Regions from separate parts of the Homo sapiens genome. Here region 2 is linked to region 1. Evidence: fine-mapped expression QTL. A gene starts in region 1. The other region holds a variant in brackets. All regions are shown on one strand. Distances are from middle to middle. Region 1 holds the start of MAN2B2 (mannosidase alpha class 2B member 2). Region 2 overlaps MAN2B2 (mannosidase alpha class 2B member 2).

The links. PIP is the estimated chance that this variant, and not a neighbour inherited with it, causes the effect.
Region 2: its variant is fine-mapped to the expression of MAN2B2 in aorta (GTEx, PIP above 0.99). The same link has a PIP of 0.9 or more in tibial artery.

What each region holds. Positions count from the first base shown.
Region 1 is chr4:6,571,379-6,587,808 of GRCh38, reverse strand. MAN2B2 (mannosidase alpha class 2B member 2) reads right to left here and starts at 12,620. Exons shown (of 19, transcript NM_015274.3): 1 at 12,461-12,620; 2 at 11,085-11,231; 3 at 9,311-9,416; 4 at 641-813. The coding sequence starts at 12,598. LOC105374365 (a long non-coding RNA gene) reads right to left here. Exons shown (of 3, transcript XR_925098.3): 2 at 14,202-14,300; 3 at 13,471-13,618. RefSeq lists a silencer at 12,371-12,830 and enhancers at 12,119-12,887, 12,888-13,655, 13,656-14,424.
Region 2 is chr4:6,615,692-6,624,537 of GRCh38, reverse strand. It overlaps MAN2B2 (mannosidase alpha class 2B member 2), which reads right to left. Exons shown (of 19, transcript NM_015274.3): 17 at 7,046-7,158; 18 at 4,494-4,611; 19 at 1,176-3,350. The coding sequence ends at 3,253. Among named protein-coding and RNA genes, the nearest start is that of MRFAP1, 21 kb to the left of the region's middle. RefSeq lists a silencer at 1,895-2,088. The variant G/T (reference allele first, on the strand shown) is at 4,125.

The DNA.
Region 1 (16,430 bases):
CATTCCAGCCTGGGTGACAGAGCAAGACCCTGTCTCAAAAAAAAAAAAAAAAAAAAAACAACAACCCAAAAGACCCCAAAAAACCCAAAAAACAAAAAACAAAAGAAAAGAAAAAGAAATGAAGGATGAGTAGGGCCTGGTACCAGGCCTGGGACTCCCAAGGGCACAATCGAAGGCAGCGTCTACCATGGTTGTTGTTGCTACTTAAGTCTTGTAACAGTTGCCCTCACACCTGAAGAATCACAGCGTCTCTGGTAACTGTTCTCCCAGCTGAACACACCCTGCCATTCCTCTAGTTGTCACCCCTGCTTACTGAGTGCCATTCTGCTCTAGTCCCTGTGAGGGGCCTAAAGAAAGAGTCAGCCCCGCCTCAGGCCCAGCTGATGGAGATAGGGGTCTGGAAGCGGGAGGCAGCCAAGCTGTGCCTGCAGCTCTGTGAGAAGCTGGGGTACAGGGAGGGGGGCCCTCCTGGTGGAGGAGGCGACAAGAGCAAAGGTTAGGGGACAGCCCCGCGGTCTATGCAGCTGCCAAGAATTTCCGAACACTTCGGCATAGAGCAGCAGCTTTCTACCGTGCTCTGATTCAAGGAAGGAAGGGAGGAGCGGTCGCTGGGCGGCAGCAGACGCGGCACACCACTCACCCGGGCCTCCTGCATGGCTGCCTTCAGGTCGTAGTCGATCCGGGAGCCGAGGTGGGCATTGAAGCCCGCCAGCGCAAATAGGGTGGGCGTCGTGGCAGAGGCGCCAAACGGGTCAACGTGCCAGGAGAACTGTGGCCGGATCCCAAATGTTTCATAGAGAAACCCGTGTCCTTCTGCAAAGACAGCAACACCCTGCTGGTGCCTGGAGGGCGGGCCTGTGCCTCCCGGCCCCATCCTCACCCCAGGGGACCCTGCCTATCCAGTGGGTTGCAGTGCCAGCTACTGGGCCAGGCAGGGTCATGCAGAACTGCAGAGGTGAGGGTGTTAATTATTAACTTTTAATCATGGTGAAGTACATATAACATACAATTTACCACCTTAATAATTTGTGAGTGTATAGTTAAGTAGTGTTACTACATTCACACTGTTATACAACCACCACCACCATCCCTTTCCAGAATGTTCTCCTCTTCCCAAGTTGAAGCTCTTGGCCTCATTAAACACTAACTCCCTATGCCCCTCCCCCAGCCCCTAGCACCCCCATTCTACTCCCTGACTGCATGAATTTGATGCCTGTAGATATCAGCGGAATCACACAGCATCAGTCCTTCTGTGACTGGCGTATTTCACTCTGCGTAATGTCCTTAAGGTTCCTGCATGTTACAGCACGTGCAGGGGTGAGGATTTTTGTGTGAACTTGGATAGAGCACTGATTTTGATGATGCTATGGAGGTCTTGGACATCACCAACAATAAAAGGTTAAAGGTGAACTTCAAACCTAAGTGTGCGGTGGTTCAAAAGACGTCCAAGGCCAGCAATGTGGCTCACGCCTGTCATCCTGGCACTTTGGGAGGCTGAGGTGGGAGGATCGCTTGAGCCCAGGAGTTTGAGACCAGCCTGGGCAATATAGTGAGACCCCATCTCTACACATGCACACAAAATTTAAAAAATTAGCCAGGCGTGGTGGTGGCACATGCCTGTAGTCCCAGGTACTTGGGAGGTGGAGGTGGGAGGATCACTTGAGCTCAGGAGGTTGAGGCTGCAGTGAGCCATGATCCTGCCACTGCACTTCAGCCTGGGTGACAGAGTGAGACTCTGTCTCAAAAAAAAAAAAACCACAAGAAAAGATGTCCATAAATTATTGCTGCGTCTTCAACAGGTGAGGCTTAGGGCCTAGAGGGTGGCCAGACTCAGTGACTCACTTCTAACAAACACAGTGAAGCAGAAGTACCTGTGTACCCTTGAGGAGAGAAGGTGAAGGGCACACAGCTTCTACTGTGGCTGCCCTTGCCTGCTCTCCTGGGTCGCTGCTCTGGGGGCCAGCTGCTGTGCCATGACCAGTCACATGGCGAGGAACTGAGGCTTCCTCTCACAGCCGCGAGAGCCAGCCTGGAGTAGACCCTCCAGCCCCAGTCCAGCCTTCAGATGACACTGCCCCACCTGACTCCCAGATGGCAACTTTTCAAGAGGTCCTGAGCCAGAACCCCCTGGCTAAGTCACTCCTGAGCTCTTCACCCACAGGAGCTGTAGATATGAAATGTTTGTTCTCAGAAGTTTGGGGGCAATTTGCTACACGGAAATAGATCATGAATACAAAGGACTCCATGCCAGAATCACCCAACCATTCATTTATTCATTTATTACTTAAGAGTCACCATAGTGAACCAGATATTGGGTTCAGTGCTGCAGGGAAAAAGAAAACCCCAGACTTGTATAAGGCATTGATTAACATTCCCCAAGTCCTTGCCCCAAATATAATCTTTCTAACACCTTGAGAGATGGGTGTTATAATCTGCACTTTAAGATTGGTGAACAGTGCCTCAGAGAACTCTCATAACTGATCTAGAGTCAAACTGCCTTTCACTGATGAACTTGCAGTCCTGGGGACCCTGGCTGAGCCTCAGATGAGGCCTGGGATGCTGGGACCGAGCAGCAGTCAGACCTATGAGCAAGGCCAAGCAAGACAGGGCAGGGGATGACTGTGGGAGGTGAGGAGTGGGGCTGGCATCAGGTGCACAGCAGAGGTGAGAGGGGATCAGGGGGAGCGTGGACTAGGAGTGTGGGTGGAGGCTGTGCATATGTAAGCAGAGAGGATGGAGAAGGAGCAGCCAGAGGGTGGGGGGAGCACAGGGGGAGTGCCAGCTGCAGGATGAAGGAGGGAGTGGGCAACAGCACCGCACTGAGAGGAGCCAGGAGCTCTGGAGGGTACGGCCTCGCACCAGACAGGGCAGCCGGTGGGGGCAGGCTGAAGGCTGCCAAGTCAGCACCCCTTTTTCACTCGCAGAACCTTCCCTCTGTTCAGGGTGCACCATGCCCAGCCTCAAGGGACGAATCACAGTTGATCTAAGCCAAATGTGGCACGCTTACTCCCTCCTGTCAGATATTGGTTCTCTCTGTCTGGCAGCTGGAGGGGCATTGTTAAGTAATGAACTGGGAGGCCATCAGGCTGAGCCGGCTCCAGGCCTCGAGTTCCTCTGTCAGCAAACCCAAATCTAACTTGGTGGAAACAGGAAAAGAGAACTTAAGCTTGACCCATCGGAAACTGCCAACCAACCTCTAACTAGGGACTGTTCACTGTAGGCAAATGTTTTCTTTGTCTTGCTTTCAGGAGCACCTTATAGACGTTTCCCTCTCATATTCCCTTAGTGGAGCCATGAACTGCTCACAGTCTAGTACTTCCTGATTCAGGAATCACTGTTTGTTCAAATAAATGCTAACATTTTAGTGTGTCTAAGTTTATCCAACAGAATAGACTATGGGTATAGAAAGCCCCCTCTCTTCCTTTTACTGCCTTGAATGTGGTGTCTGGTAACATGATGGCTGGAGCTATGGCAGCCATATCGTGACCACAAGGGTAAGGACATGAGAATCACAGATATCAAGGTACTGCAGAACCAGTCCCAAACTATCCCCATCTTGTTAAGTAAATGTTCTTAAGACTCAAGTCGCTTTGTTACAGGTAGTTAGACAAGCATGAGTGGGGCAGGGGAGGGCTCTTCCCCCACCCACTAGGAATGTTGGGTGATGGTTTGGCAATTATCACATTGCCTCTCTAGAAGTGAGAAATTGGCAGCCAGCACTAGGGAGAGGGCATTTCCTGATGGTCCACACCTGTTGCACTAACATGTTAATTGAATGCAGGTGCCAGGGAGACGTGACTTCCCGAGCAGGTGCATTAAGAGACAAAATGGCGGAGTTTGACCTTCCAGGGACACTCCACTGGAAAAGGGAAGAAAGCGTCAGATGGGCATGTGTGCAACTTCCTAAACACAGTGCGTGTGCTCACCTCCCAAGGGTAAGGAGGGCACTGTGAGTGCGGGTAGCCCAGCCTAAGGGAAGAATCATGGGAAAGGGGACCAGCCTATAAAGTCCTAGGATCAAGGATCAATACAGCACTTGACCTTCACGTGCCCACTTGGGACTCTTTCAAGCATATTTTCCTTTCTTTCTCATTTTAAAGCCTTTTTAAATAAACTTCCACTTCTGCTCTGAAACATGCCTCAGTCTCTTTTTCTGCCTTATGCCCCTCAGTCGAATTCTTTCTTCCGAGGAGGCAAGAACTGGGGTTGCTGCAGACCCGTACGGATTAGCTGCTGGTAACTTGGATACCTTCCACCACTAACAGCTTTACTTAGGTTTTCTGGCCGTCCAGCAGAAAGCATTCCTGAGACTTCAGGGTGATTCATGACCAAAACTGTTAATTGGCGTCCGATATACATTCTGTCCTTCTTCCTTTTAGTAACAGAACCACACACTCCTTCTTGGTTTTAGCAGGGCAAATGGACTCCCAGCCAGAGACTACATTCCCCAGCCTCCTTTGCAACTGGTAGAGGTCACATGACACCACTCTGGCCAATGGACTGGGAGCAAAATAGACTCTATTCCCCAGCAGTCCCTGCAGTTGAGGGAGGCCATATGATTAAGTTCTGGCCAATGGAAATGTGAGGAGTGATGTGGGCAGGTTCTAGGTCGCCTTTTACAAGGAAGCTGCCTGCCCTGGCTCCACCATTCCCTATCCCCTAGCTGCTGGAAGGACAACTCAGTGGGGTGAGCCAGTCTAGACTGCAACTCAGGCAGGCAACACTGTGGGGGATGGCTGAACATCAAGATGGAAGCAACGTGGATCCCTGGGTCACTCCATGGAGCAGAGCCACCCAATCACCAGAGTGGCCTGCACTGCAGACTTCCACAGGAGAGAAACACACCTTCCTTCTTGTTGGAGTCACTTGGTCTCTGTTCAAGCTGCTGAACCAGTATCCTCACCAGTATAATGACCAGGCCACAAGCAAGCTCACTAGCACATGCAGGGCAGAGGCCAGGATGCAGGGGCTGAGGGTGAAGTAGTGGGAGGTGGTGGGGGGTGAGGGGGTGGTGGGAATAAATGCCATTACAGCCTGAGCTGGAGGGTCTTGCTTTATGATGTTGAGGTCAGGAGTTCAAGACCAGCCTGGGCAACACAGTGGACCCCATGTTAAAAAAAATTTTTTTTTGAAGAGAGACAATTTAAGTGTGTTTTCAATACTGCTGGGGGCCGGGCTTGGTGGCTCAGGTCTGTAATCCCAGCATTTTGGGAGGCCAAGGTGGGCGGATCACTTGAGGTCAGGAGTTCAAGACCAGCCTGGCCAACATGGTGAGATCCCTGTCTTTACTAAAAATATGAAAATTAGCTGGGCATGGTGGTGCACGCCTGTACTCCCAGCTACTCAGGATGCTGAGGCATAAGAATTGCTTGAACCTGCGAGGTAGAGATTGCAGTGAGCCGAGATTGCGCCACTGCACTCCAGCCTGAGTGACAGAGTGAGGCTCTGTCTAACAACAACAACAACAGCAGCAACGGCAACAACAACAACTAAATACTGCTGGAAGGAGTCAGAGAGACAAGAGAAGGTGGAAGAGAGTCTGTGACACAGGAGAGGGATCGCGGATTCAGTGGGAAGGGAGTGGGGTTGGGGGACAGGGCTGAGAGCTTGGGTTTGAATGGCCAGGACAGCAGTGGTCATCCAGGATGGCCCAAGGTGTCTCCTTGACTCTCACCTGGACCCTTTGCCTCTCAGCACCTCTGAGGCGGGAGCTGGGCTCTCTCCCCTCAGGATAGGGGTGAGGGGTTCTTTCCCTCTGGCACCTGCCACTCTGCTGGGCCTCCGCTAAACATCCCAGCTGGGAAAGTGTCCCCTCAGGGAGGGGCATGAAAGCTCTTACCCCCGGGGGCCGCTGCCCACACCCAGCCTTTCCCTGACACTGCAGTGCTGGGAACAAATGCTTTTCCCCTCACTAGAAATGTCACATCTAAAATTAAGGTGGTGTTGGCGTGACTGCCGGGAGCAGGAGTTGGGGAGGTAAAGGCTGGAAAGGTGAGCTTACGGGCAGGCCCAGTGCCCCAGGCCCTGGCGGGCAGCCAGGAGTGGGTCTTGGTTGAGGAGATGCTTTGGCACCCTAGATACCCGAAGAAGAAGGTCAGAGGTCTAGAGGCTGCACCAGCCTGCTCCTGTCTTCCTTTGCTGTCCAGGGCCTGCCTCGAGGCAGGGGCTCCACCAAGGTGAGATGGAGGATAAAGGGCCCGGAAGCAGTGAGGGGTGATCCAGCCCCTCTTACCCCAACATATCTGAGAAAACCAGCCCAATGTGGACATAATTCACAGCCAGAATGCCTGGGACATCTGAGATGGGTGGTCTGATACACACACTCTGCCCCCGCCCTAGGGACTACAAGTTAAGGAAAGAGCCCAGGCCAGGCACACATGGGCTTGAGCGCCAGTTCTGTTACCTACTGCATATATATAAATCCCGCATCTCTCAGTACCTCAGTTTCCTCATCTGTCAAATGGGGCTGTGAACAGTACCACTTGCTACCAGGCTGTTCTGAGGCAACTAAGAGATAGCAGATGGGAAAGGGCTTGGCTCAGCCGCCAGTGAGAGGGGCTCAGCCACAAGTAACCTTCCTGACTCGGCCGGGCTAGGGTTGGATCTGGGTCCCATCACTTAGCTGGTGGTGGGCACATTTGGATAGCATTTGAGCCTCAAACTTCTCTACAAATAAGCATTTGTAAGATTACCCATCTACCAGATTGCCCTGAGGACTGAAAAAAAAATACGTGTACATCTTGTACCTAGAACAAGGTGGTTATCATGAAAGAAACCCACATGTCTGTACCCTGAGGGCCCCATGAGCTTGGACAGGTTTGGAAATGGAGCCTCACAACAGCCGCTGTCTCTTGTGTCTCTGGAGGCTCTTCCTGCCCCAGAGCGACACAGCCTCAGCTTCCCTGAGGCTTCCAGTTGCCAGGTCAGACCTGCAGGGTCAGCGCTGGGGTATCAGCACTTAGGCACGGTGGGCTGAGGCCAGAGGCGAGGTACCCCAGTGGTGGGTACCCTCAGGGCAGGGCAGTTCAGCGCCCACCCCTTGCCCAGCCTTGCCCAGTAAGCAGTGGTCTGGGCCAGACCCTATGCTGGGTGCTGAGATGAGTCAGATGGGGGTCCCTGCCAGGGGCATCTTGAGGTTCAGCGGTTAAGTGGGGAGGTGACACAGAACTGCAGAGACTCAGAGATTTCCTGCGGGAGGGGCTTCTCAGCTGCATCTTGAGGAGGAGGGTGGAGAATGAGGGGGAGCACTGCGTGAAATGGCACAGGTGAGAAACAGCCCCAGAGCCTCCTCGCTGGCACGGGGCAGGAGGCAGGTGGGGGACACGCCTACAGTGTCACACATTCCCTGGCAGTGGGCTTGTGAAGGGGTGTGGGGGAAGTCTGTTGGGATAGATCCCTTGCCCACACTTCACATGGGGGAGTGAAAGAGCAGGGGCTCTGGAGTCAGGGAGCCACAGCAGGCGGCTGAGGGCAAGGTGCTCCCTCTGAGCCTTGCTGTCCTCCCCTGTTACCTCTGGGCCTGTGGGGATGCAGGGGGACAAGCAGGGGCTGAGCTCCTGGCCACAGGAGGAGCTCTGTCTGTAGGGCTGTGTCCATCACGCCTCCTTCTCATGGAAGGGCAAGTCTAGGGTTTGAGCAAAGTCCAGATGTAAGGCAGTAAGAAACTGAGACAGGGGAACACTCCAGATTACAGATGAGAAAAGGGAGAGTGCCAAAAACATCCTTTGACAACATTGCTCTCTGCCTGGATGTTTTACAAATGGGGAAATCAGGGCCCATGCTGTAGTGGAGTGACTGTGGACTCGGAGCTTCAGTCCCTAGGCCTGGACTCAAGTCCTGGCCATCTACCCTGGAGAGAGTTACTGCATTTCTTTGGATCTCAGTTTCTACATCTGCAAAATGAAACTGGGCATCACCATGCCTCACCATCAGCCCGCCATTAGGATTGGCTGGGGTGTCACTGTGAAAGGCATTTGGTAAATGGTGAGTAGAGTGCCCCACGGCACTGTGGGTGATGGTGCTGAGGACAGTGGACACAATGGTGAGGGAGATGGTCATGGTGGTGGTGATGATGATTGTGGAGGGGATGGTAGTAATGGATGTGGTGATGGTGGTGGCGACAGTGATGGGTGGTGATCATGGTGATAGTGTTTAGGGGGTGGTGGTGATGGTAGTGGTAGTAATGGTCATTGTAGTGGTGAAGATGATGGTGGTAGTGGTGATGGTGGTGATGGTAGTGGTAGTAATGGTAGTGGTAGTGGTGGTCATAGCAGTGGTGAAGGGTGGTGGTGATGGTAGTTATGATGGTGGTGGTGATGGTAGTGGTAGTGATGGTCATTGTGGTGGTGAAGGGTGGTGGTGATGGTGAAGGGTGGTGGTGATGGTGGTGGTGATGGTGATGGTGGTGGTGGTGATGGTGAAGGGTAGTGGTGGTGGTGGTGATGGTGATGGTGGTGGTGATGGTGATGGTGGTGGTGGTGGTGGTGGTGATGGTGGTGGTGGTGGTGATGGTGGTGGTGATGGTGATGGTGGTGGTGATGGTGGTGGTGGTGATGGTGGTGAAGGGTGGTGGTGGTGATGGTGGTGGTGGTGGTGGTGATGGTGATGGTGGTGGTGCTGGTGATGGTGATGGTGGTGGTGGTGGTGGTGATGGTGATGGTGGTGGTGATGGTGGTGGTGGTGGTAGTGGTGATGGTGATGGTGGTGGTGCTGGTGATGGTGATGGTGGTGGTGGTGGTGATGGTGATGGTGGTGGTGATGGTGGTGATGGTGGTAGTGGTGATGGTGATGGTGGTGGTGGTGGTGATGGTAGTGGTAGTGATGGTCATCGTGGTGGTGGTGGTGATGGTAGTAGTCATGGTCATTATGGTGCTGAAGGTGGTAATTGTGATGGAAGGCAGCAAACACTTACTGAGCATTTACTAGGGAACCCACATCCTACTAAAGTGCTTTATTTGAATTATCCCATTTAATACTCACAACAACCCTTTGAGGTAGGTATTACCATCAAACTCATTTTATCTATGAGGAAACTGAAGTTACATTCCTTTCCAGGGTCACAGAGGAGGGAATTGGCAGAGCCAGGATATATTGAGACCATCTGACTCTAGCATCCATGCTCTTAACCCCTACATTCAACTTCCTTGGTGAGGCATGAATATGGCACTAGCAAATCACTGCTTTCACTGGTTAAGGTCCCCGACCCCACTAAGAGGGGCAGACAGAGCTCAGAACCTGGGGGTTCTGATACCATGTCCCAGCCCCACTGGAGGTCCTGAGGGACCCTGGGTGCAGGGTAGGGTGGCCAAACCTGTGAGCTGCAGGATCTGGTCATCAAGGTGCGTCACAGCCTCGTCATGCATGACCTGGCCTCCGATGACAAATTCCAGGCGTCCTTCCTCCAGGAGCTGGCGGACCTTGACATGGGCAGGCAGAGAGAAAAAAGCCAGTTACGGCTCCTGAGCATGGCTGGGTCTGTGGGGAACACACCTACAGCGCCACACACGCCCTGCATAAAACTCCCCACCCTTGCTTACTCTATAAAAGCAGGGCACTGTCTGTCCTGGTCCACACTGTGTTCCCACCACCTAGAAATCATGCAGCCCTCAGGTGGTATTTGAGATATATATTTGTATATATAAGATTTTCTTAAATCTTATTTTATTAACTAATTCTAAACTTTAGAAAAGTTTCAGGAATAGAACAAAGAGCTCCCATATCCTTTCCCAAGGTTCACTCATCACTACCATTTTTAACCTATTTGCTTAACATCCCCGTCTCTACACACATAACACCTTTGTTGCCCTAGACACTACACACCTCAGTATGTGTACACACAGCTGTTTATAGGCTGTGCCTTTGGTTTGTTTCTTAAGGTGCACTATATGTAGATCATTCACTCAACAAATGTTAAGTGAGCACCTACTACACAACCAGCACTGTTCAGGCACTGGGGGTTCAGCAGTGAATGAAGCAGGCAACAATTCCTGCCTCCAGGGAGCTCTGCCACAAGTTTCCTGTCCAGGTCTTCACTGGGCCATGCAGGCCATGCTTCTCTTTGAGGGCTAGGAGACAGACCACTGGGTTTGGTGGGGTCCACCTGAAGAAGCATGGGACGCTCACAGGATATCCTGGAAAGGCCTGCCTCGAGTCAGGCATGCCTGGCTCAGAATCCCACCTGCCGCTTACAAGCTGTGTGACTGCAGGCCAGTGGCGTGCCCTCTCTGAACCTGGAATGTCTCTTTAACTTGAGGTAAGAACCCCACTATCTGGCAGCATCAAGTGGCCATTGGATGTCCGGCTCCTTCCCGTGACTCTGGCGGGGCCTGGTGGACGCCCTGCTCTCCCTTCTCCGCTTCACTCCCTTGAGCAAGTCACTTGGCGTCCCTGAACTTTATGTTCAGCAACTATTCTGAAGGCAGGTGGATACCTGGGAGGAAACTAAGAACCCCCGAGTATCGTCCTGGGTGCTCACGCCAGGGCTTCATTCTTGGCATGACTTTTCTGCAATGGGGCGGTCACCCCCGTTTAATAGAAGTGGAATCTGTGGCTCGCAGGGGCTAGTCGTGTCCCCTGGTGCGGGAGCAGGATGGGACCCAGGCTGCCTCACTGTGCAGCGGGGACTCTGACTCTCCATGCTGTATGAAGCAACCTGCTGCCTACCCTCAAACCACAGGGACTATCGCACCCTCATCAAGGGTCACCAGACCCTGGGCCCGGGGGCCAGGCAGATAACACAAATGAGAGAAGAGGGTGAGGGCTTGGGGACACCTGGGATGCCTGGTGTCAGGGGGCACTGCTGACTTAGTGCCAGCTGGCACGGAAGTGCACAGCTGGGTTGCCAGAGCTGGCAGTTTTTTCAAGAATAGACAGAAATTCAGGATTAAATTGAAAGCAATCTCTCCCAGGCATGGAACTCACCGTGAACCTTGATCTAAACAAGGCTGTGAATAGCCCGGTGGGGTTTTGGCCCTGTGGTTTATGCCAGCCTGGCCCTGGCCCTGGCTAGAACTGCCCCATTGAGTTTTCCACCTGGGTCTTTGCCAGGATACTGGGCCAACTGTGTCACCTGGTGACCTCATTACCTGGTATTTCTGCTGGTCCGAGGCGACGCCATCCCACCACAGCCGGAAAAACTCCTGCTCCACAGCGATGAACCGGCGCTGCTGGCCGCGGGCCAGCTCTTCCACCACTGAGGTGTAGACATTGGCGGCGTACGCCCGCATGCTTTCCTGGGGAGGGGACAGCATCATGCCAGCCCCGGTCCAACAAGACCAAGTGTCCCTGGGGCCCCTGCCATTCGCCAGGTGTGTCTGCATGGGGTTGGGGGCTCTGCCCTTCCTTCCCTGCTGCTCACCCCCCACACAGCTATTAGGCACTCGCTCCATACCAGGCTCTCCCCACTGGATGGGATCGTGCTCTCCTGGGGGAGAGGGACGGGGAAACAGACACCCTACATGGGCAGAGACAGGTGCCCTCCCAGCCCAGGGGTCAGGGACAGTTTCTCAGAGGGGTGAGCAAGCTGGGCCTTGAGTGTGCAATTTGGGGGGCTGGGCCCTGAGTGTGCCATTGAGGGGCAGCACAGGAAAGTCTTAGGCCTCAGTCGGGGTGTGGTCCAGTGACCCCAAAGGGGCCTGCTGGGGCTGAAATGAGGAAAGCTGGTGCTGAGAGGAAGAGCTCCCCAGGCTGTCCCTGGCGTCTAGGCGTCTGCCTCCCCAAGGCTGGGAGCTCCAAGGACCACAGCTGTAGTGTGTTCCCATCCGAGTCCCGAGGGCCCTGCACACAGGGTGCCCACAGAGTGCTTACATGAATGGAAGGAGCACCGAGCAGGGAGTCAGGAGGCATGAGGGTTATTCCCGAGCGACCTTGGGCAAGGCAGCAACCCTCTCTGGGCCTCGGTTTTCTCCTCTGGAAACTGGCTGTAGTGGGCATGCTTCCCCTACCCTTTACAGATGGGGAAACTGAGGCTTAGGGACCAAAGCCCCTCGCCCAAGGTCCTGAGCAGAACCAGGAGGTGACCACAGGTCCACCTTCACCCCTGTCCTGGGGGGCGGAGGACGCTGAGCTGGCCTCCAATATTCAGCCCCGCAGGGGACCAGCCCGGCCCCTTCCCAGCGGGCACCTGACATCCACCTGCTCTGAAGCCAGCCCCACCCTCTCCTGCTCCAGGCTTCCCTGGAAAATGGGTTACCACTGTCAACCCCCAAGCCCCTCCCCAGCCGGGAATGCAGGGGTCCCTCCAATCTGCACCACCCTCCAGAAGGGGAAATGGGGGTTCAGAGGCAGGAAGTGACTGGCCCGAAGTTAGCGACGCAACCAGTCAATGGCAGCGTGGGGTCCTGAACCCACTGAGCCTCCTTCTGCGCCGGCATCGGGCCCCGGGACGCAAACCCACACTCAGATCCCGCGGGGAGAGGGAAGCTGCAGCCTCAGGGGCGCGCGGGGCGTGGTCGGCACCTACCTGCACAGTGTAGACCCAGCCCACGTCCATGTGGCTGTGGGGCACCACGAAGGCCCGGATGGGGCCGGCGGACTGGACCCCTGGCGGTCGCAGCAACAGGAGCGGTGCCAGCAGCGGCAGCCAGCACAGCTGCCCCATCCCTGCGGCAGGCCGGGAAGGTGCCAGGCCCACTTCCGGGTCCGCGAGGGGCGGGGCGGCCGCGCGGGCGGGGACGCGGCCCATTGGCTGCGGGCGGGGGCGGGGCCCATTGGTTGCCGGCTGGACGCCGACCCCGGGAAGCTCGGGAAGGAGGAGCTGGAGGCGCGGGGCCCTCAGCGGGGCAGGGCGCCTGCTCTTTGCGGTTTAGCTCTCCATCCCCGTCTCCAGCTTTCTGGCCTTCCCTCCCTGTCCATCCTTTCAGCCCCATCTCCCCCAAGCCTGCCAGATCTCCCCCAACCAGAGGAGACCCCTCCTCGCCCAAAGCCCACGCTCTGGTGGTTCCTCTCGGAGCGTGTGCCTCTTCGCAATACCTGCATCCCGCCCTCTGGACTCGGCTCCGGGACTCTGAGGCTACCGTGCAAAATTCGGCTCAGCACGGACCCTGTGAGCTCTGCCACCAGGAACCTTCCCTGATAACCCTTTCCCTCCTCTCCCTGGCGTCGAAACCCCATCTGGGCGGCGCCATGGGGGGCTTGTTATGGGACTGTCTCCTTTTTTTTTTTTTGGACAGGATCTCACTCTGTCTCCCAGGCCGGAGTGCAGTGGCGCGATCAGGGCTCACTGCAGCCTTGACCTCCCGGGCCCAAGTGATCCTCCCACCTCAGCCTCCTGAGTAGCTGGGACCACAGGGGCACACTGCCACACCCAGCTAATTAAAAAAAAAATTTATAGAGATGGGGGCCTCACTATGTTGCCCAGGCTGGTCCCAAACTCCTGAGCTCAAGCGATCCTCCTGCCTCCGCCTCTCAAAGTGCTGGGATTACAGGCATAAACCAGCATGCCTGGCTCAACTGTCTCCATTTTAAGGAGGAGAACTGGCTTTCAGAGACAGTAACTGACTTGTCCAAGATCACGCAGTTAGTGGAGGAGCCAAGAGAAGCTTTCTGGGTTACTGGATGGTGACCTGGGGCGACATAGGTAACCTCGCTGAGCCTCAGTGAAATGGGTCCGATAGAGGAGCTGTGAACAAAGTAAGGATGCACCCAGGCTGAGAGCGTGAGCACAGCACCCCTTGCCTGCACTCAGGGGAGGTGCGGTCACATTGGTGCAGCCTGTTTGGGACTGTTGCCTGGAGTCAGCCCTGTCCACTACTCCCTGCCCAAGAAAGCAAGGGTCTGTGGCTTGGGGTTTACTGTCTGAGAACCACTTGGCTGTGCCCCTGCCTGGCATTTCCTAGCGGAACCAGAGCTGCAGCTCTGAGCAAAAGTGCTGGTCCTCTTGTCCATTATGTAACAAATGGAAACTGAGAACAGGTTCTCCAAGCAGGTCTCCCTCCTCCTTCTGTCCTGTCCACCCCCTGGGGACCCCTGCATCCCCATAGCCTCAGGTCAGATGGTCTGAGCCTGACGTGGACAGTACTCACTAACACATGTCCCCATGACCGGCCAGGCTCACAGCTGGGCTCCACTCTCCAGCCTCTGCAACCAGGTGCGGCCACGTGGCTAAGTGCTAGTCAATGGGATGGGTGGGGGCGGGCACTGTGCTCCTCTTCCAGGCTGGCCCCTAACAACCTCCTGTGGGTGAGCCCTGCTCTCTTACTCACCCACTGCTCCAGTGGAGGGCACTCCGAGGACCTCAGGGAGGTTAGAGCCACCAATGGAGGCTCTGAAGAACCACATGGAACCATGAGGAACCCAAAGAGCTGTGACAAGAGGGAGAAATAAGCTTTAATTGTGTTAAGCCACTGAGTTTATCGATAAGGCAGTGTCACAATCTTTGGCAGACTGTATCTGCCAAAGATGGGCTCCACAACATTACCCACCCCCCAAGCTCTTTGTAGAATTTGGTTGACGAGAAAAGCCACACTCTAAAATATCTCAGAACGTTTATTCTAAGCCAAATAGGAGTGACCATGGCCTGTGACACAGCCTCAGGAGGTCCTGAGAACAGGTGCCCAAGGTGGTTGGGCTATAGCTTTATACATTTTATGGGGACAGAAGTTACAGGCAAAGACATGAATCAATATATGTAAAGTATACATTGGTTTGGCCCAGAAAGGTGGGACATCTTGAAGTGGGTGGGTGGTGCTTCCAGGTCAGAGGAGGATTCAAAGATTTCCTGATTGGCAATTGGTTAAAAGAGTTAAGCTTTACCTGAAGAGTTGGAGTCGGCAGAAAGAAATGCTTGAGTTAAGACAATGGGGATGTGGAAGCTAAGGTTCTTGTTACATAGATGAAGCCTCCAGTTAGCAGGCTTCAGAGAGAATAGATGTGCATGTCTCTGGGGACCTTAAAAGGTATCAGACTCTCTGGAAAAGAGCTAGTAAGTAAGGAGATTCTCTACAGAATGCAAGTTTCCCCCACAAGAGATGACTTTGCAAGTCCATTTCAAAATATGTCAAAGAAAATTTATTTTGGGGTAAAATACTTTGATTTCCTTTAGGGCCTGCTCTCTGTCGTGTGTTGCTATACCAGAGTCATGTTAGAATCGGGTATCTGATTGCTACAAAAGTGTTCTGTCAGTCTTAGGAGGATCTCTATGTTAATGTTAATGCTGGTCAGCTGTGCCGAAACTTAAAGGGAGGAGGCTATGATGAGGCATGTGTGACCTCCCACTTCCCATCATGGCCTGAACTAGTTTTTTGGGTTTCTTTGGGGTCCCCTTGGCCGACAGGGGGTCCATTCTCTCAGCTGGGGCTTATAATTTTATTTTTGATTTACAATATGATCTTGACATTCTTCCTATTAGGAGATAGGGTCTATGTCTCCTCTCATTGAATCTTGTTTATTTATTGTTTTTTATTTTATTAATTTTTGTGTTTTTTAGAGATAGAGTCTTGCTCTGTTGCCCAGGCCAGAGTGCAGTGGTGGACTCCTAACTTACTTCAGCCTCAAACTCCTAGGCTCACGTGATCCCCCTGTTTCAGCCTCCTGAGTAGCTGAGACCACAGGTATGTGCCATCATGCCTGGCTAATGAAAACTTTTTTTTTTCTTTTTTTTTTAGATATAATATCCCGTTATGTTGCCCAGGCTGATCTTGAACTCCTGGGCTCGAGGCATCCTCCCACCACCATCTCACAAAGTGCTGAAATTATAGGTGTATGCCACCATGCCCAACTAATTTTTCTTTTCTTTTTTGTAGACAAGATCTCTCTATGTTGCCCAGGCTGGTCTCAAACTCCTAGCCTCAAGGGATTCTCCGAAAGTGTTGGGATTACATGCATAAGCCACTGTGCCTGGCCCATGGGCGGGCTTGTGACACACTTGTTACAAAGAGAATGTAGTGAAAGTTGTACTGTGTGACTTCCATGACATCCATGTTCACTGGAGCACTCGTGCCTGGAGGCCTGAGTTGCCCTGTCAGCAGTCCAACTACCCTGAGGCCACCATGCTGTGAGGAAGCCCAACCAGCCCACATGGGGCAGACCACAGGGAGCAGCTCAAGATCACCATGCTGTTTCAGCTCCAGCCCCCCATCTGACTACAACAACATGTGAGACCTCATGTCATTTTCTCTCCTGCCCACTGTATCACAGCTGTGTAGGGTTTCATTTGTACTTTCCTCAAGGCTCTTGCGTGAGCTCTTGCTGCAGCTAGTCTCAGGCTTGAAGGTGATACTCACAACCCCCTCCTGGATTATTCATTCAGATCCCTTTCACCCTCAGCTAGACCCATGCTGGACTAGATAGCTTACCTGGTGGGTTGCCCCAGATCCTCACCAACGAGGATGAGCCCCTGGTGACCATTCCCTTCTTGAGCCATAGCTGCTCACTTGCCTATTTGCTGACTACATCAGGTGAAAGAGTCCTGAGGGACACCCATGTGGGTGGCA
Region 2 (8,846 bases), 41 kb before region 1:
CAGTCGTCTGCCACTAAGCCTGGCTAATTTTTGTATTTTTTTAGAGAGGGGGTTTCACTATGTTGGCCAGCCTGGTCTCGAACTCCTGGCCTCTAGTGATCCACCCACCTTGGCCTCCCAAAGTGCTGGGATTACAGGCACGAACCACTGTACCTAGCCCCAGTGCACTTCAGAATCATCCTGTCAAGTTCCGCAATAAACCTGTTGGGGATTGTCAGTGAGCAACGTAGTTTATTGGGAGTTTGGTGGTGGTGGTTTGTAAAAAAAAAAAAAAAAAAAAAAAAAAAACAAACAACAACAACAAAAAACAGGCCATTCACAGTGGCTTGAGCCTGTAATCCCAGCACTTTGGGAGGCCTAGGTGGGAGGATCGCTTGAGCTCAGGAGTTCAAGACCAGCTTGGGCAACATAGTGAGACTGCGTCTCCACAAACATTTTAAAAATTAGTTGGGTGTAGTGACTCATGCTTGTAGTCCCAGCTACTCAGGAGGGTGGGATGGGAGGACTACTTGAGCCCAGGAGTTAAGAGGTTCCAGTGAGCTATGATAGTGCCACTGCACTCCCACCTGGGTGACAGAGCGAGACCCTGTGTCTAAAAAAGTAAAATGAAATGAAATAACAACAAAGCAACAAATGGATGTTAGATTTTAGCCAATATTCTGTCTATTGTGGGTGGGTTTTCCCCTGTCATCTATATTCTTCTCACTCTTCCCAGTTGAGGGTGCTGGGTGCTGGAGGGACCGCAGGGGGAAGTGGCTCTCTTGCTGTTTCTGTTCTGGACGGGGATGGTCAGCATGGGTGATGGTACTTTCAGTGCACATGATTTTTCTACAGCCTGGCTGCGCTGGGGATAACATTTCCATAGTCTTCTTTATTTTTTTCTGAGACAGGGTCTTGCTCTATTACCCCGGTTGGAGTTAGTGGCATGATCATGGCTCACTGAAGCCTCGACCTCCTGGGCTCAAGTGAGCCTCCCACCTCAGCCCCCAGAGTAGCTGGGACCACTGGTGCACACCACCACGCTCGTCTAAAGAATAGTTTTTGTAGAGATGGGGTCTCACTATATTGCCGAGGCTGGTCTGGAACACCTGGGCTCAAGCGATCCTTCTGCCTAGGGCTCCCAGCGTGTTGGAATTTCAGGCATGAACCACCACGCCTGGCCTCCGTAGTCTTCCTTTTTTTTTTTTTTTTGAGACGGAGTCTCACTCTTGTCACCCAGGCTGGAGTGCAGAGGCGGAGGTCTCCTCCGCCTCCCAGGTTCAAGTGATTGATTCTCCTGCCTCAGCCTCCCGAGTAGCTGGGACTACAGGCGCACACCACCACACCCGGTTAACTTTGTATTTTTAGTAGAGATGGGGTTTCACCATGTTGGCCAGCCTGGTCTTGAACTACTGACCACCAGTGATCCGGTTGCTTTGGCCTCCCAAAGTGCTGGGATTAAGGCATGAACCACTGCCCAGCCTCCATAGTCTTCTTGACACAGAAACCAAGCCTCATGCAGCCCACATGCTCTAAAGGGCTCCTGCCTCACTCCTTGTGCCTCAACCTCCCACTGCACATCCATGCCTCTGGTGGCTGCTCACCTGACCCCACCTCACAGGGGTGGCCTATTGCTTGGTCAGCAACTCCAGCCCAGCTCCTGCCTGGCCAAACCAGAGACTGTCTTTGCTGTCTGGTGGCCAAACTGCACGTTGTCCAGAGGTCTGACTCCTTCCAAGCTGGTCCTTTCTGGGTACTTTCCTTCAGCCCTAGAGTACCAAATAATTTCCTACATCTTACAGTTTACTCTTTAAAACGGTTTAGGCCGGGCACATTGGCTCACGCCTGTAATCCTGGCACTTTGGGAGGCCGGGGCAGGCAGATCACCTGAGGTCAGGAGTTCCAGATCAGCCTGGCCAACATGGTGAATCCCCGTCTCTACTAAAAATACAAAAATTAGCTGACGCAGTGGTGCATCTCTAGTAGCAGCTACTCGGGAGGCAGAGGCTGGAGAATTGCTTGAACCCAGGAGGTGCAGGTCGCAGTGAGCTGAGATCTTGACACTGCACTCCAGCCTGGGCGACAGAGTGAGACTCTGTCTCGGGAAAAAAAAAAAAAAGTTTTAAAATTGAGATATAATTCACAGACCATAAAATTCATCTTCCAAAGTTTTTAATTCATTGGTTTCTAGTATATTCACAAAGTTGTGCAACCATCATTCCACAATTTCATCATCTTCCAAAGAAAGCCCGTCCCTGTTAGCTGTCATGCCTCTTCTCTCTTCCTCCAGTACCTGGCAACCACCAATGTGCTTTGTCTCTGATACACAGATTTGCCTATTCTGGACATTTCACATAAACTCGTGATTGGCTTCTTTCACTTAGCGTAATATTTGTAGGATTCACTCAGGCTGTGGCATGCGTCAGAATTTCCTTCCTTTTTATGGCCAAATAATATTCCATTGTATGGACAGAACACACTTCATGTCTTAATTCATCTGTGGATGGACATTTGGGTTGTTGCTACCGTTTGACTTTTGAGTAATGCTGCTATGAACGCGGGAGCACAGGTATTGTGTGGATGGATGTTTTCAATTCTCTTGGGCATAGACCTGGGAAGGTTATACTTTTATTGATATTAATAGTTCTGATATTGGACATCCCTGCTGTGTGGTTTCACCTCTCATGGACTCTGACGGCTGCTGTGCCTTCTCTGCTCGGCAGGCGGTGCCCTGAGGCACAGGTGGGCGTCTGGGGCTGGAACTCTCGCTAGGCGCTACAACTTCCTCTCCTGCCCTGTGGCAGAGCCAAGCCCCTTGCAGGGCTGTTGCCAGCATGGGATGAGTCTATGAAAACACGTGGCACGCAGTAGGTCCACAGTTACCACTGGCAGCCTGGCAAGCCTGGCAGGGCCCGGACGGCAGATGCGCTTCGGTGCTGCTGTGAGTCTTGTGCTCTGCCTTAGGCAGAAAGTCCTGGGTTTGTGTTTTGTGAATGAATGACGCATGAGTGTGCCAAATATCCTTTACGTGACAGAAGAGGAGAGGGCTGGCTTGATTGAGTGTGGGGGGGAAGAACCTGGATCTTGTAATGTAATTTTTGTTTAAAAAAATTAGGGAAAAACCCCAAATATGACCATTTCCTGCCATTAGCCTGCAGATGAGCAGCTGACTCCCCAGTCCCATCCCTCCGCACTGCTTTTCCCTGTCCTGGGTCTGTTCTGTTACATGGAGTTCCTGGGGGAAGCCCTGGGGCCGGGGCATCTGCCCAGGGCTCACTGCTGTTGAAAGTGAATAAAGAACGTCCGGATTTCCTTTGGGTGGACGGTGATGATGGGGCCTCCTGGTGGCCTCGAGGGAGAGGTGGTGTCACCTAGGGGAACAGAGGTGATCTGTCCAGTGTGGCCTGGGATGCCTCCTCCCAGCCTCCCTCTCACCCCCTGCACCTGTCTACAGTCTGCTGTGGCTCCCAGCCTCCCTCTCACCCTCCTGCACCTGTCTACAATCTGCTGTGGCTCCCAGCCTCCTTCTCACCACACTGCACCTGGCTACAGTCTGCTGTGGCTCCCACCGTGGCAACGGCCTATGGCATCCCCTTCTGCCAGGACTCCTGTGGGCCTCTTGGCGTTTCTGCCCACCCTGAGGGCAATTCATAGGTTGGTCCTGGCCCTAGTGGCCTCAATTCCTCATGGGTGTTGCCCTCAAAGCCCAAGAGCTTTCTGAGACCATCTGGTGAGTCTGCCCTTGCCTCACCAGGCTCCCCTGAAGGCATGCCCTGGGGTTGGGCTTCGATCTTGGGAGGGAGCCGTCCACTTATCTATCACTCATCCATCTTCCTTCCTTCTTTCCAACCAACATCATCTTCCCTCCCTCCCTCCCTCCGTCCCTTCCTTCCTCCCACCACCAACTGAGCGTGCACCATGCACCCGCCACCATGCTGTGTGTAGTGGACAACGAGCTGCACAGGACAGAAGAAACCCCTGGGGCCAGGAGAGTGGAGGAGGCACTTGGCCTGGTTGGTGACTCTGGGGAGGCATCCTGGGGAGCTTGAGCAGGTGCTGGCCAGAGTGAATGGGACCTGTGCGTCCCAGGCAGAGGGCATGGTGCGGACAGGGAGTGGAGCCTGGAAGCTGCCTGTAGTGCAGGA[G/T]CTCACGGTGGCACATGTCGTATGAGGCAGGGACCGGCTGATGGGCTGAGGTCAGCAGGGCCAAGGTGGGCAGAAGCCCCTGGGCCCCTAGCTGTCACCCAGGGCACAGGCAGGGCGTGTGGTCTGCGTGTGCACACGTACAAGTGCACACACACGCCTGTGTGGAGCCCTGGCAGGCAGAGACTAACCCAAAGCCTTTCTTAACCGACTGTAGTAGATTTGGGAGGGCTGCGGGTTCAGAGTAGGAAAGCAGCCTCGCAAGGTCGCACAGGCCGGGACAGGCAGATGGTTGGATGTGCACCGGGTCTGACCAGCTGCTGAGCCTGGCTGGGAGTCCTGGGTAGGGAGCTGAAGCGGGGGTCCCCAAACCTCTGTGGCGGCCAGGCCCCGTCCTCCAGCTCCAGCGGTGCAGCATGCTCAAATCCCAGGTCCCTGTGAGCGAGCGCTCCTCCACTGCCACCACGGACCCCAGCGCCTGCAGCACAGCCTGCAGGGAGAGGAGCAGAGGGAGAGTGAGCTGCACCAAGTTCCAGAGCTGAGCAGAGAACCAAGACAGCAGCAGGGCAGACACACCACGAACTCGGTGTCCTCAGGAGCCCAGGTCCTCCCCTGGTGCCTGACACAGCTCCCTCATCTGCTTCTCACAGCACATCTGCGAGGACAGGACTGGCCGTGTACTTTACAGATGAGGACACTGAAGCGGGAGGTGCATGCTTTACCAGGTGGCCGAGCTGGAGGAGCAGCCCGGGAGGTGTGGCATTTTGAGCTGCCCACCCCACCGCGGAGTTCTCCTCTCCCCACATTGCTCAGGTGGCCCCGTGCCCAGTCCAGGGAGGAAGCCAGCCACAGTTACCCCATCCCCCTTTCCCAATAGGCCTTGTCCCAGCCTCCCTTACACCTAGGGGAGGCAGGAGGCCCTTAGGGGTCTGGAAAAGTCTGTGGAGCAGGAGGGCTGGGGGTGGCTCTTGGAGAAGCTTCTGTGTGCTGACGGAGGGAGAGAGCCACGCTAGGGCAAGGCCTTTCTGGCCACTACTGCTGAGCCCTACCCTGCCTTGAAATTTGCTCATGAGGGAGGCCTGTGCCATCTTGTGACCGCAAACAAGCAGACGGCAAAAGACAAAAGCCAGTCTGCCGGCGATGGCGGGAAGATGACAGTGATCGGGCCCACGGTGACAGCGCTTGGGGTCCATCGGACATGCCTGTTCGGTGAGAAAACACTCTGTCCTCTGTTCTAAGCACATCTGTTAGGTGTTTTGTGACTTGCAGCCAAACTCACTGCGTTCCTAACTCAATGGTCTTTCCACCCCACCACCGTCCACGTTGGGCAGGGAGTCATGGTGTCCATCCCAACCGTCTCCTTGTCTCAGGGCCTTGGTGCTTCCATCTGTGAAACGGGGGAGCATCAGATGACCAACTTCCAGGTCCCACGCTGGCCTCCTTGCTTCCCAGGGCAGGCTGGCCCTGTGCTGGGCACTGGTACCCGCCATGGCCTAGACCTGCTCTCAGGCAGGCCAGGGACCGTGAGGAAAGGATCCTCCGTGGCGAGGATCATGAAAGAGGAGGTGGGTGGCCCAGTAAGACATCATGGCGAAAAGGTACTGGGGCTTCTCTGGATTCCCCTGAAGACTCAGATGTCGAAGGAGGCCCAAGGCAGAAACACAGAGATTCACAGAAATTCTCCATGAGCAGGAAATGAAATAGAAAGAATGCAAACTGGGAAAGAAATGAGGCGGCTCAGGTCATGCCTTCTGGGGAGGGAGCGTGGGCAGGCCAGGTGGCGGAAGCCTCGCCTGATAGTAGAGCTGAGAGGGCAACATCAGCCAAGAGGGGAACCTGGAAGGGGACGAGGCCTGGGGGCCCTGACACTGCACGAGGCCCCTTAGTGCCAGGGCCTCTCAGCAACCTTCTGGGCAAAGAACTCTCACCTCTCCCCATTTTACATGGGGGGAAACTGAGGCCCAGAGGCATGGGGTGCCGGAGATGCCCCCGTAGAGGGGCCTGGGTGTGGACCCTGGATTGTCTGACTCTAAGTCACCTTTCAAAGCAACTCTATGGGGAATCTGTTTTGTTTTTGGATTACACAGATGTTGTCTGTGTTTTAAAAGTTTTACCACAGAATAAATAAGAAAGAAAATACAGGCCACTCACGCCTGTAATCCCAGCACTTCAGGAGGCTAAGACAGGCAGATTGCTTGAGGCCAGACGTTCGAGACCAGCCTGAGCAACACAGCAAGACCGTGTCTCTACTAAAAATAAAAAAACTAGGCCAGGCTTGGTGGCTCACGCCTGTAATCCCAGCACTTTGCGAGGCCGAGGCAGGTGGATCACCTGAAGTCAGGGGTTCGTGACCAGCCTGACCAACATGGAGAAACCCTGTCTCTACTAAAAGTACAAAAAAATTAGCCGGGCGTGGTGGCACATGCCTGTAATCCCAGCTACTCGGGAGGCTGAGGCAGGAGAATCACTTGAACCTGGGAGATGGAGGTTGCAGCCAGCTGAGAGCGCACCATTGCACTCCAGCCTGGGGGACGAGAGCGAAACTCGGTCTCAAAAAAAAAAAAAAAAACTTAGCCATCGTGGTGGCGCGCCCCTGTGATCCCAGTTACTTGGGAGGTTGAGGTGGGAGGATCACTTGAGCCAGGGAGGCAGAGGTTGCAGTGAGCTGAGATTGTGCCACTGCACCCCAGACTGGGCAACAGAGTGAGATCCTGTCTCACATATACACAAAAAACCCTAAAAAACCAGGCCAGTTGTAATACCTGACAAACCCAGAAGACCATGAAGAAGGGCGGGGTGGGGCCCATACCAGCGTCCATTTGGGAGGAAGCCCTCGTGGATCTCTTTGCCAAGGCAGTTTCTTGGGGCTTCATCTAGGGTTTGCTTCCCTGGCTTATGGTCTGGATGGGGGTGGGGAAGTTCACCTCCAGATTCACTGTCACTGGCTGAGACAGGACTGGGTCCTCGCCCACTTCATATAGGTGGTAGAGCCGCAGCAGGACACGGCGGAGGTCAGCCTGGGCTTCCCCTCGATGGCCTTTGGGGACAGAAGGAAGGTGGCAGTGAAGACCCTCATCAACCAACCCCAATGTCCCTGGTCTATACCCGCTGCTTTACACACTCAGCTCCATTTCCTATCTGTAACCTCCTCGATATGGTTTGGCTGTGTCCCCAACCAAATCTCATCGTGAATTGTAGCTCCCATAATGTCCACATGTTGTGGGAGGGACCTGGTGGGAGGTAATTGAATCATGGGGGTGAGTCTTTCCTGTGCTGTTCTTGTGATAGTGAATAAGTCTCATGAGACCTGATGATTTTGTAAAGGGCAGTTCCCCTGCACACGCTCTCTTGCCTGCCACCATGTAAGACGTGACTTTGCTCCTCATTTGCCTTCTGCCATGATTGTGAGGCCTCCCTATCCAGGTGGAACTGTGAGTCCATTAAACCTTTTTTCTTCATAAACTACCCAGTCTCGGGTATGTCTTTATGAGCAGCATGAGAACAGACTAATAGACTCCATGTGAGACAGCTGACATGGCCCCCACTCGACAAGGAAACCAAGGCTCAGAGAGGGGCAGTCACGTGCCCAAGGCATACAGCTGGTGCGCGGCAGAGGGAGGATTCCCACCCAGGTCTGGCCGACTGTAAGGCTGCCCACCATGACACCAGCTGCAATGTTTCCATCCTCGTCCACTGTTGTGGGCATATTGGGGCATGTCCTCAAATACTCCAGTCTCTCCTACCCTGCCCCCTTTGAAGTCAGGGGAGGCTGCGTGGCCTCTGTGGCCAATGCAAAGTGAGCTGAAGTGACGCAGTACTTCCCGGCAGAAGCTTTTTCTTGCCATGGTGAGTGAGGAAGCACGTGCTGCAATACAAACTCCATCAGCGGGGGGCGTGGTGGCCACAGCAAGAAAAACCTTCCTGCTAACCCCACTGGATGCACAGCATGGGGGAGAAATGAATATATACTGTTAAGACCGTGGGCATTCGGGGCTCTTTGTTACTGCAGCATACGCCAGCCACCCTGACTGATATAATGCTGTCATTTGCCACATGATGTATGTGATCTCCTGTCCCATCCCTGATCTTCCCACTCAGAAAGGCTCATTGCCATTGCTCCCGTTTTACAGATGGGAAGACCGAGGCTCAGAGGAAAGCACTGAGTTCAAGGTCCTGGAGAGAGGACCTGGTTAACACAGGTGCTTCCTAAACCCTGGCTGGTAGAACCTCAGCTCTGCAGCTATGCCTCAAAGCTGACTAAATCAATCTGTCTGGGATTAGAATTGAGGCATCAGTATTAAAAAAAAAATTTTGGCAGGGTGTGGTGGCTCACACCTGTAATCGCAGCACTTTGGGAGGCCAAGGAGGGCGGATTGCCTGCTGTCAGGAGTTTGAGACCAGCCTGGTCAGCACAGTGAAACCCTGTCTCTATTAAAAATACAAAAATTAGCTGGGCATGGTGGTGGGCACCTGTAATCCCAGCTACTCGGGAGGCTGAGGTAGGAGAATTGCTTGAACCTGGGTGGTGGAGGTTGCAGTGAGCCAAGATCACACCACTGCACTCCAGCCTGGGCAACAGATTGAGACTCTGTCTCAAAGAAAAAAAAAATTTTTTTAGAGACAGGGTCTTGCTCTGTTGCCCAGGCTGGAGTGCTGTAGCATGATTACAGCTCACTGCAGCCTTGAACTCCTGGCCTCAAGTGATCCTTTCACCTCAGCCTCCTG